Regions from separate parts of the Homo sapiens genome. Here all the other regions are linked to region 1. The links come from fine-mapping of genetic effects on gene expression. A gene starts in region 1. Each other region holds a variant in brackets. All regions are shown on one strand. Distances are between the middles of the regions.

Region 1 (2,762 bases):
ATAGGAACTGGTTCCCTCTGCACAGAGTGAAGGAAACCCTGAAGCTCAGAGACCCTAGAGACCCACCCAGGGAGGAGAAGAGACCGTGTCCCACCTCCTACCTCCGGGCTTCCCTGGAGCACCAGGGCCTGCACCAGACACGTAGGTCCTGCCCTCCCGGCCTCTGGACCATCGTGGAGGTCCCTCCTGTCTTTTGAGCATCTAAATGTGGATCTCCGAGGACCTCAGGGCATGAGAGATGGAGGGGCCGTGTGCTGAGTCTCCCTGTCCAGGCTCAGGTGCCTCTGCTGCCCTTGGTTTGCGCCAGGAAGTGCTTCCTCCCTGGCCTGGCCTGAGAGAGTCACGGGGTTGTGTAGACCTAAGGCTCTCAACTGGGGAGGACTTAACCCCCCAGGACGTTTAACAATGTGTGGAGATAATTGTTATTGTCTCACTGCATGGGTGGAGTGGGTGCTTCTGGCATCTGGTGGGGAGAGGCCTGGGATGGTGCTAAACCCCGGCCATGCCTAGGACAGGCCCCAAAACAAGGAGTCATAAGGCCCCACATGCCACAATGCCAGCGTCAGAGGCAGGATGAGGATGTCAGGCCTGTGGGTCAGGGCTGGTGAGGGGAGGGGCCTGCAGGATCAGGAGGGGCATCCAAGGTGCGGTCCTGGGGAAGCTCAGGCTCTGGTCCAGCTCCTCTCCTGAGTCCATCACCCCCGGCCCCCTCCCAGGACATGTGTCCCGTCTCAGCCGTGCCCTAAAGCCCTCATCACATTTGCCTTTGGCCTCTCTTGGAGCCCGTGCCTTACCTGTCACGTTCACAGAGAGCTGGTCATATTTATAATTCCATTTTATATTTCCTTTCTCCATACGAAAGAAGTATCTCCCCGCATCACTCATTCTGGCATCTCTGATGCTCAGGGTGCAATTTTTGGTCTGTGGGTCCCCAAGGAGGTGGAATCGGTCCCGAGTTTCCTCCTGCACTGCCCAAGCTGGGTTGTTTGTGGCCACTGGAGCCTTCCAGCTTATATCATTCCCTGCCCGGAACCAGTAGCCATGAACTGGGTCAGAGTCAGTCTGGCTGTCCACTGGGTAGGAGAAGGAGCAGCGCACATGGACACACATGCCCTCTTGCACGGTCACGGAACTCTGCATCGTCAGCGAGTAATCCTTCCGGTTACTCTTCTGTCCTTCCACCCTCTCCCTCCCCCAGAGCAGGGGCAGCAGCAGCAGCAGCAGCATATCTGGGGTTGGAGGTGCCAGGGCCGCGAGGGAACGTCTGTTCCTCAGGGTTCTTCTCTCAGGAACTGCGGGCTCAAGACTTAGAAGAGGCCCTACAGGAAGTCGGTGGTGAGGTCAAAACAGTGACCTCCTTAGAAGAAGAACTTCACACACAGACACTGTCAGGGCTGGGTCAGCCCTGGGAGATCCACCGTCCACCACCCGACATTCACTCCTGGGTCCCTGAGGCCAGAGCGGGAGACAGACTCACCCAGATTCCCACCCCATGCAGGGCCCACCCCACCTCCTGCCTCCCTCTCAATGCCTTTCCCTTTAGGTGATATTTTCTGCAGGGTGAAAATAACTCCCATCTGCCCAGACCCCTGAGTCACAGGCTGTGGATGTCTGCGTAGCTCAGAAGTGGGACTCGGGGCCATGAGAGACAGGGGTGCAGGTGGGGTGAACAGGCAGCCTCTCATCCCTCCCTCAGCAGCCACGAGGTGGGCACCCCCTTTCTGCACAATGAGGTCAACACAGCAGAGCCGGACACTGTCCCCAAGGAGTCACTGTGTGGTGGGGAGACACTGAGTCTCCTGACGTTTGAGCTCCCCATGACAGGAGCTTCAGTGGGGGGCACAGGCAGGGTGGGGTCACTCTCCCCTAGGTCGGGGGTTCAGTCTCAGGAGGACCGAGCAGACGGACATGGGGCTGTGAAGGTGAGGATTGCGCCTGTTGATACACGCCAAGGACACGGAGGGGAGCCCAGCCTGCAGGAGGCCGGGGAAGCTGAGGCTGTGATTGTTGTATTGTGGGGCTTGGTAGACAGGAAAGTCATAAGGGAAAGGATCAATATGAAAAGAGCAGACACTATTCCCATCCTCACAGCTCTCTGAGCACAAGGACATTTCCCTTCACCACTGCTATCTCATGAGGCCTGGTTAGTGCAGAGTGTGAGGGGTCTGCTGGCCCTGGGGCTTTGCTCCTGCAGGAACTGCTCCTAGGGGTTCAGGTGAACAGGAGACGTGGAGCAAAGACACCAGCCCCGGGGCGTCCACCCTCAGTGATGGGCGCGATTTTCTGAGAGAAGAAACACGCACCTGACTTCAACAGAAGATTATTTTAAACTGTGTGACTGGGCTGGGAGGAAGTGGGAAAAATCCTGCAAGCTGCAGCCCCCTTAGATCCAGGCCAGCTTTTCTTGAAACAGTTTTTTTTGAGCGGGGAGAAACACAAGACATGTACATAAAAGTGTCCCCTAAAAACCAACTCAGTGATTCACACAAAATAAGCACCCTTGAAGAACTAGAACACAAAAGAACTGTCAAGTCTGTCCCTTGAAATGAAGAAAGAGATTTTATTAATTCATTCACCCTTACATTCCCCTTTCCTATTGGCCATGCCCCCGCTCCCTCCTGAAGGAGCCCCTAGCCTCACTTTAATGATAATAGTCTTCCTGCTGTTCTATGTAGTTTTATCATCGGCACATGCTGCCTTGAAAATTCTAACTTCACGTAGGTTTTCCTGAAGATGTTGTATACATAGAAAATCCCAGTCTG
Region 2 (2,762 bases), 31 kb before region 1:
ACTTTTGTCCACATGAGAATTTCCTAGAAATGTACTCATTTGTGTCTGTATTCTTTCATCTCAGCAGTAATATTTTTGGAAACTGAACCAAGTTGTTGAATGTGCATTGTAACATCTCCAATCTGGACCCCTCTCTTGAGCTCCTGACAGTTACATCCGGCTGTCTCCCTCCTAGTCCCATTCTGATGTCAGGTGGATTCTCAGAATTAATCATTCTCTAGGAAAGTCCTTCCCTCTTCAGTCCTCTATGGACAAAGCTCCTTCCTTCCAGGTGCCCAGGGGAACATTCCGGCCTCGTCCTTTGTATTGCCTTCCCCTCACTGAACACATAGTTAGCCTGTGATCCTTATTAGCTTGATCTTCCACACACATCCAAAAACATGTCCTCACCCCACCCTGCCTCGCTGGCTCAGCCCTCATCCCTCCTCCTGGAGGACCCAGCAGTGCCTTCCCCGTCTTCCTGTGGCTGCCATGACCCACTTGGGCCTGCTCTGACTCAGGCATTTGAGGTCAGAGTGAGAGTCCAGTTGTGTCTCTGCCCTTCCCAAAGGCTCCAGGCTCCTGTGCGCGCTGCAGCACCCCACGCAGTCTGCAGCTTCCTTCCTGCTGCTCCCTCCTTACCCTTCCTCTGCTCTAAGACATGGGGCTCTGGTTGAGCCCACAACCCCCAGGCCTGCTGCTGCCTCTGAGCAGTGCACTTGCTCTTCCCCTTATCCTTTTCCTGGGATGCTTTTCTCTTATTCAGACTCAGAGCCCGCCTCTTCAGCACCTTCACGTCTTTGCCTAAATGTCACCTCTTTCCACTATCAGATATAGAAACTGTTTCCCAGTATAGTCTGTGCTTATTTCCCTGTGTTATTTTTCTCTAAACAAATATCTCTATCCAACATGGGAAAAAATATTTTACTTATTTCTTTTTATTTGTATCCTTCTGCTCTTCAGAACAACAGCTTGATGACAGAGCTCTTTGAGTCTATATCTATTGATGAACTTCTTGCACATACGGAAATGCTGGCACATAGTCATTATATGTATTCAGTATGGTTACTGAATATGTCTACAAATTAATGAACAAATGCCACATCTCCGCTTAATATCATACAAGGATTACATAAAAATACACACACCTGGATGACATTTAAGACAACCTGAAGGATGATAAGGACCTGGATTGGCAGGAATGGGGAGGAAGGCCATTTCAGGAGAAGTAACTACACATGCAAAGTCTCAGAATCACAGAGGGCTTGGCCTGGTGGGTGTAGGGAGACTTCGGGTGATGCAAGGAGAAGGGGGATCAGGAGCAGAGTCCAGCAGAAGACAGATCGTGAAAGGCCTTCAGTCCAGGCAGTGGCATTTGCACTTCATTCTCCAGCAATGAAGA[G/A]GAAACATGGCCATTCAGACTGTGGAGGAACTGGATGAGGAGACATCTGGAAGTACAGTCTGGAGGCCTGTGTTGGGGAGAGATGGAGGCAGGAGGTGAAAAGGGTTCAGTGATCAGGGAAGAGGTGAGGCCGCAAGAATGACCAGGGTCAGGATGGAGAAAAGGGCATCAAGATGAGCCCTGCTTAGGAGAAGGAGGGACAAGAGCTAGTAATTTATGGGATCTAGAGAAGGGAGGGGGGTCAAGATGGAGACCCACACCCAGGTTCTGACTTTAGAGATGAGGCCTCTTTGTCATCTGCAGGATGAAGAACCCACATCCCAGGAAAAGTAGGTTTGAGGAGGAAGACAGTTGGCTTAACTTTGGCCATGATGGGCAGAGCAATCCTGGAGGCCATTGTGGAGGAGTTATCCAGCAGGATGTTGAAGAGTGAGAGGCCCACATCACTCACCTGAGAGATTAACCCATGACAGCATATACATTCTCCTCAACCTCCACTGCCCTCACCGCCTTCTTCTTGTGGAAACTGACATTGAGTGAAGAGACAAGGACCTGTAAGTGTGGCCACATGAAGGGAGCAAAGGGCAGCCAACTCAACTTCCTGTGCCCTGCTAGAGGCTGGAGGGATCACAGGGAGGAAGAGCAGGTCTAGACTTCCTTGATGACAACAGGAAGCTCCCCATCCTGGCATTTGGCCCTCAGTTGGGACAGACACAAACTGACCACAAATGGCCCATGTGTAATTCTCACCACCAATTCAGCCTCCAGCCTGGCCCCAGGACCACGTAAACTGTCTGCATACCCCCAGGATTGAGATTCTGGGATTCAGCATCATGTCCTCTGCCCTCCCCATGCCTGTCCTTGGTCTTCAGGCAGTGCTTACCTGAGGATGATGAGGCAAAGGCAGAGAAGCAGGATCTTCACAGCCACTACCCCCACGGCCAAAACAACCACCTCTTCCACGGTTCCTGATTTCCCTGCAAAAAGGTGGGATGAGGCCCATTCACCTGCTAAACCACAAACCATGTCCTTCCTCTCCCAAGACAACTTGGACATTGGTTCTTCAGATCCTTCCTGCATCCTTGGATGTGGTATCACATCAGCCCAGGGCTCATTCTAAGCTGTTCCCTGACTGTCCAGCAGTTGGAAGAAGAAATGATACATAATTTGGACTTTATCAAAATTAAAAACTATTTTGCATTGATTGGCACTATCAAGAAAGTGAATAGACAACCCACAGAATGGGAAAATACATTTGTAAAGCACAGATCTGATAAGGGTGTAGTATCCAGCATATATAAAGGGCATGTAATTTACAAACCACTCAAATTACAAACAACCCAAATTAACCTATTAAAAAGTAGACAAAGAACTTGAGTGA
Region 3 (2,762 bases), 22 kb before region 1:
AATCATCAATATACCCGCTGTCATGGTGAGTTAGTTTGTCTACTTGAGAATTTCCTAGAAATATACTAAAAAATTGTGTCTGTATTCTGTCACTCAGCAATCATTTTTTGAAACTGAGCCAAGCTGTTGTATATGCCTGTAGTTCACAATGTGTTATTGCTAAGTAGTATTATCTTTTATTTACTCACCTATTGATAGACGTTTAAGATTTTCCAGGTTTTTTCTATAGGTATCCAAGTAGAAGTCTTTTTATAGACATGTTTTTATACTCATTTATACACAAGATGTGGAATTTTTAGTTCAAATAATACCTGCATATTTAATTTTTGTAGGAATTGCAGAATCGTTATCCAAATGGCTTTGACTTTTACCACTACTCCCAGCCATGCACCAGAATTCCGGTAGCTGTACACCTTTATTAACACTTGGTATTGTCAGTCTTTATATTTTAACAATTCTAGTGAGAGCGTAGTGTCATCTCTAGTGTATTTTGAATTTAGGTACCATCAATTTCATCAACTGAGTATTTCTCATATGCAATTATTTGAGGTTTGACAGATGTATGTAGCTATATACCCACAACCACAGTCAAGACACTACCAAGTGCCATTACTTAAAACATTCCCTCCTGATGTTCCTTGGTAGGCAACTGTCCCTCCCTATTTAATTCCTGTAAAAACACTAATCTATTCTCTACCCTACTGATATGCCTTTTAAAGAATGTCATATAAACGGAATCATTCAAAATGTAGCCTTTAAAATCTGGATTCATTCACTTGGTTTAATGCATTTGGGGCTCGTCCATGTGATGGGGTGTTGTTTTTAAATTGCTGACTCATACCTCACTGTTTTCATAGATCCCCATTTTGTATACATTTACTGGCTGGTGAACATTCATATTGTTTTTAGGTTTTGGTGACTGTAAAGTAAAACTAGTATAAATATTCACATGCAGATTTCTGTGTGTGGACACTAGTTTTTTTATTTCTCTTGGGTAAATACCTAGGAGTCGGGTGCTTGGTCATATGTGTAAGTTCGAATTTATAAGAAATTGCCAAACTGTTCTCCAAAGTGGGTGTACCATTTTACATTCCCACCAGCAGAATATATGAGTTCTGGTTGCTCTAC[G/A]TTTTCATTAACATTTGGTATTATCCGGATTTAAAAAAAAATTTCTTTGGGTTTTGTTTTGTAGCCATTCTAATAGGTATGTACTGCTACCTCATTCTGGTTCTAATCTGTGATTTCGTAGCAGCAAATGGTGTTGAGAATGCTTTCATGTGATTATTTGCCATCAGTTTTTCTTATTTGGCGAGGAGGCTGATCAAATATTTAGTGCTTTTTAAAATTTGTGTTAAAATATACATTAAAAAATTACAATTTTAACCATTTTTCAGTGCACAGGTAAGTGGCACTAAGTACATTCACACTCTTATGCAATTATTAATCATTGATCTCCAGAAATTTCTTCATCTTGCCAAATTGAAACTCTATACCAACTAAATGATAACTTCCTATCCCATCCTGCCCCCAACCCATGGCAACCAACTTTCTACTTTCTTTGTCTATGAATTTGAGCACCTCTGGGAGATTGTGGGTAAGAACTGAGAAAAATTCTTCTTCTCCAGATCCATTTCTCTGTTCCTTTTTGTGTTTCTGCAACATGACCTCAGTTCTCTCAGGAAGCCCCAAAACCTGTGAAACTAACCTGTGCTTGCAGCTCTGCTTGCTGCCAGAAACAAAGGCTGGGAGCCAGCAACAGGAACCAGCCAGGGGATGAGTTCAGCCCAGACGTGCTGCCTGGACCTGGATTCCTGCCTCAGTGCAGGCCTTGACCTGATTTCTTGCTTCATTACCATACTAAAATCTCCACTCAGGGGCGAGAACTATGCCTTGCTAGGCACAGAAGGTGCCAAGTACAAAAGAAAACACAAGAGTGTGCACACTTCAGCCCCTCCTGAAGGAACCCACCTTTTTCCAGATCTGCCCGCCTCAGTCTCCAACTACCTGCCCTAAGGGCCCTTAAGATCCCCTTTTACCAACCCCTGGGAGAAGGTGCTTTGCACATGAACTCCCTTTCTCCATTTCTTGATCAATGAATAAAGTTTCTTCTCCGCTTTGCCGATTCTGGTCTCATTCTATTGGCGTAAGTGGCAGGGGGCAGAGAAAGGACCCACTAGGGCCAACTCACCCCTCCAAGGGTGGGTAACATTTGCAGCAAAACTCCTCAAGAGGTTGTTTGTCGTCACTCTTCCTACCTTCCTTTCTTCGGTTATTTTCCAAACGAGCTTCCAATCAAGTCCCCCACCCTTTCACACATGTTCATCAAAGCTGCCATTGCCAGTTATCTCAGACGTAAACAAAATCAACTCAATATGGATTAAAGATGGAAATGTAAGGCCTGAAACTGTAAAACTCCTTGAAGAAAACAGGAGAAAAAGCTTCTTGACATTATCTGGGCTCAGATTTTTTTAGATACTGTAAACTAAAAATAAAATCCTAAGCCCTGTAATCAACTGAACAGACCCCCTCTTGGCCAAGGGGACCCCAGAAAAATCTTAAAAACTGAGTTGCTGCTACAATGGGACGAGAGGTCAGACACACCTCATTATAGCCCCTTCCTTTTGCAGTTGAGATGCAGCAACTGATTAACCTTAATATGGAAATGGAGATCATAAGACTGGCAGAACAGACTCTGTGGCAATGAGATACCAAATCATATACAAAACCTAAGGCCATGCCAGGCAGGGGTTAAATTACACACC

Alleles and levels. Alleles are on the strand shown, and positions count from the first base shown. SD is a standard deviation of normalised expression in the study named. Not every link is listed here.
With allele A in place of G in region 2, the expression in monocytes of the gene that starts at base 1,296 in region 1 is lower (large effect, 2.0 SD a copy in Kim-Hellmuth 2017).

Evidence for each region. PIP is the estimated chance that this variant, and not a neighbour inherited with it, causes the effect.
Region 2: its variant is the best candidate, but not a certain one, in a credible set for the expression of SIGLEC7 in monocytes (Kim-Hellmuth 2017, PIP 0.67).
Region 3: its variant is the best candidate, but not a certain one, in a credible set for the expression of SIGLEC7 in monocytes after interferon gamma (Fairfax 2014, PIP 0.61).

What each region holds. Positions count from the first base shown.
Region 1 is chr19:51,140,835-51,143,596 of GRCh38, reverse strand. SIGLEC7 (sialic acid binding Ig like lectin 7) reads right to left here and starts at 1,296. Exons shown (of 7, transcript NM_014385.4): 1 at 795-1,296. The coding sequence starts at 1,227.
Region 2 is chr19:51,171,662-51,174,423 of GRCh38, reverse strand. All of the region lies in intron 1 of LOC101928517 (a long non-coding RNA gene), which reads left to right. It also overlaps the pseudogene SIGLEC17P. Among named protein-coding and RNA genes, the nearest start is that of SIGLEC7, 31 kb to the right of the region's middle. The variant G/A (reference allele first, on the strand shown) is at 1,382.
Region 3 is chr19:51,162,484-51,165,245 of GRCh38, reverse strand. It overlaps LOC101928517 (a long non-coding RNA gene), which reads left to right. Exons shown (of 5, transcript NR_110732.1): 2 at 1-25. Among named protein-coding and RNA genes, the nearest start is that of SIGLEC7, 22 kb to the right of the region's middle. The variant G/A (reference allele first, on the strand shown) is at 1,129.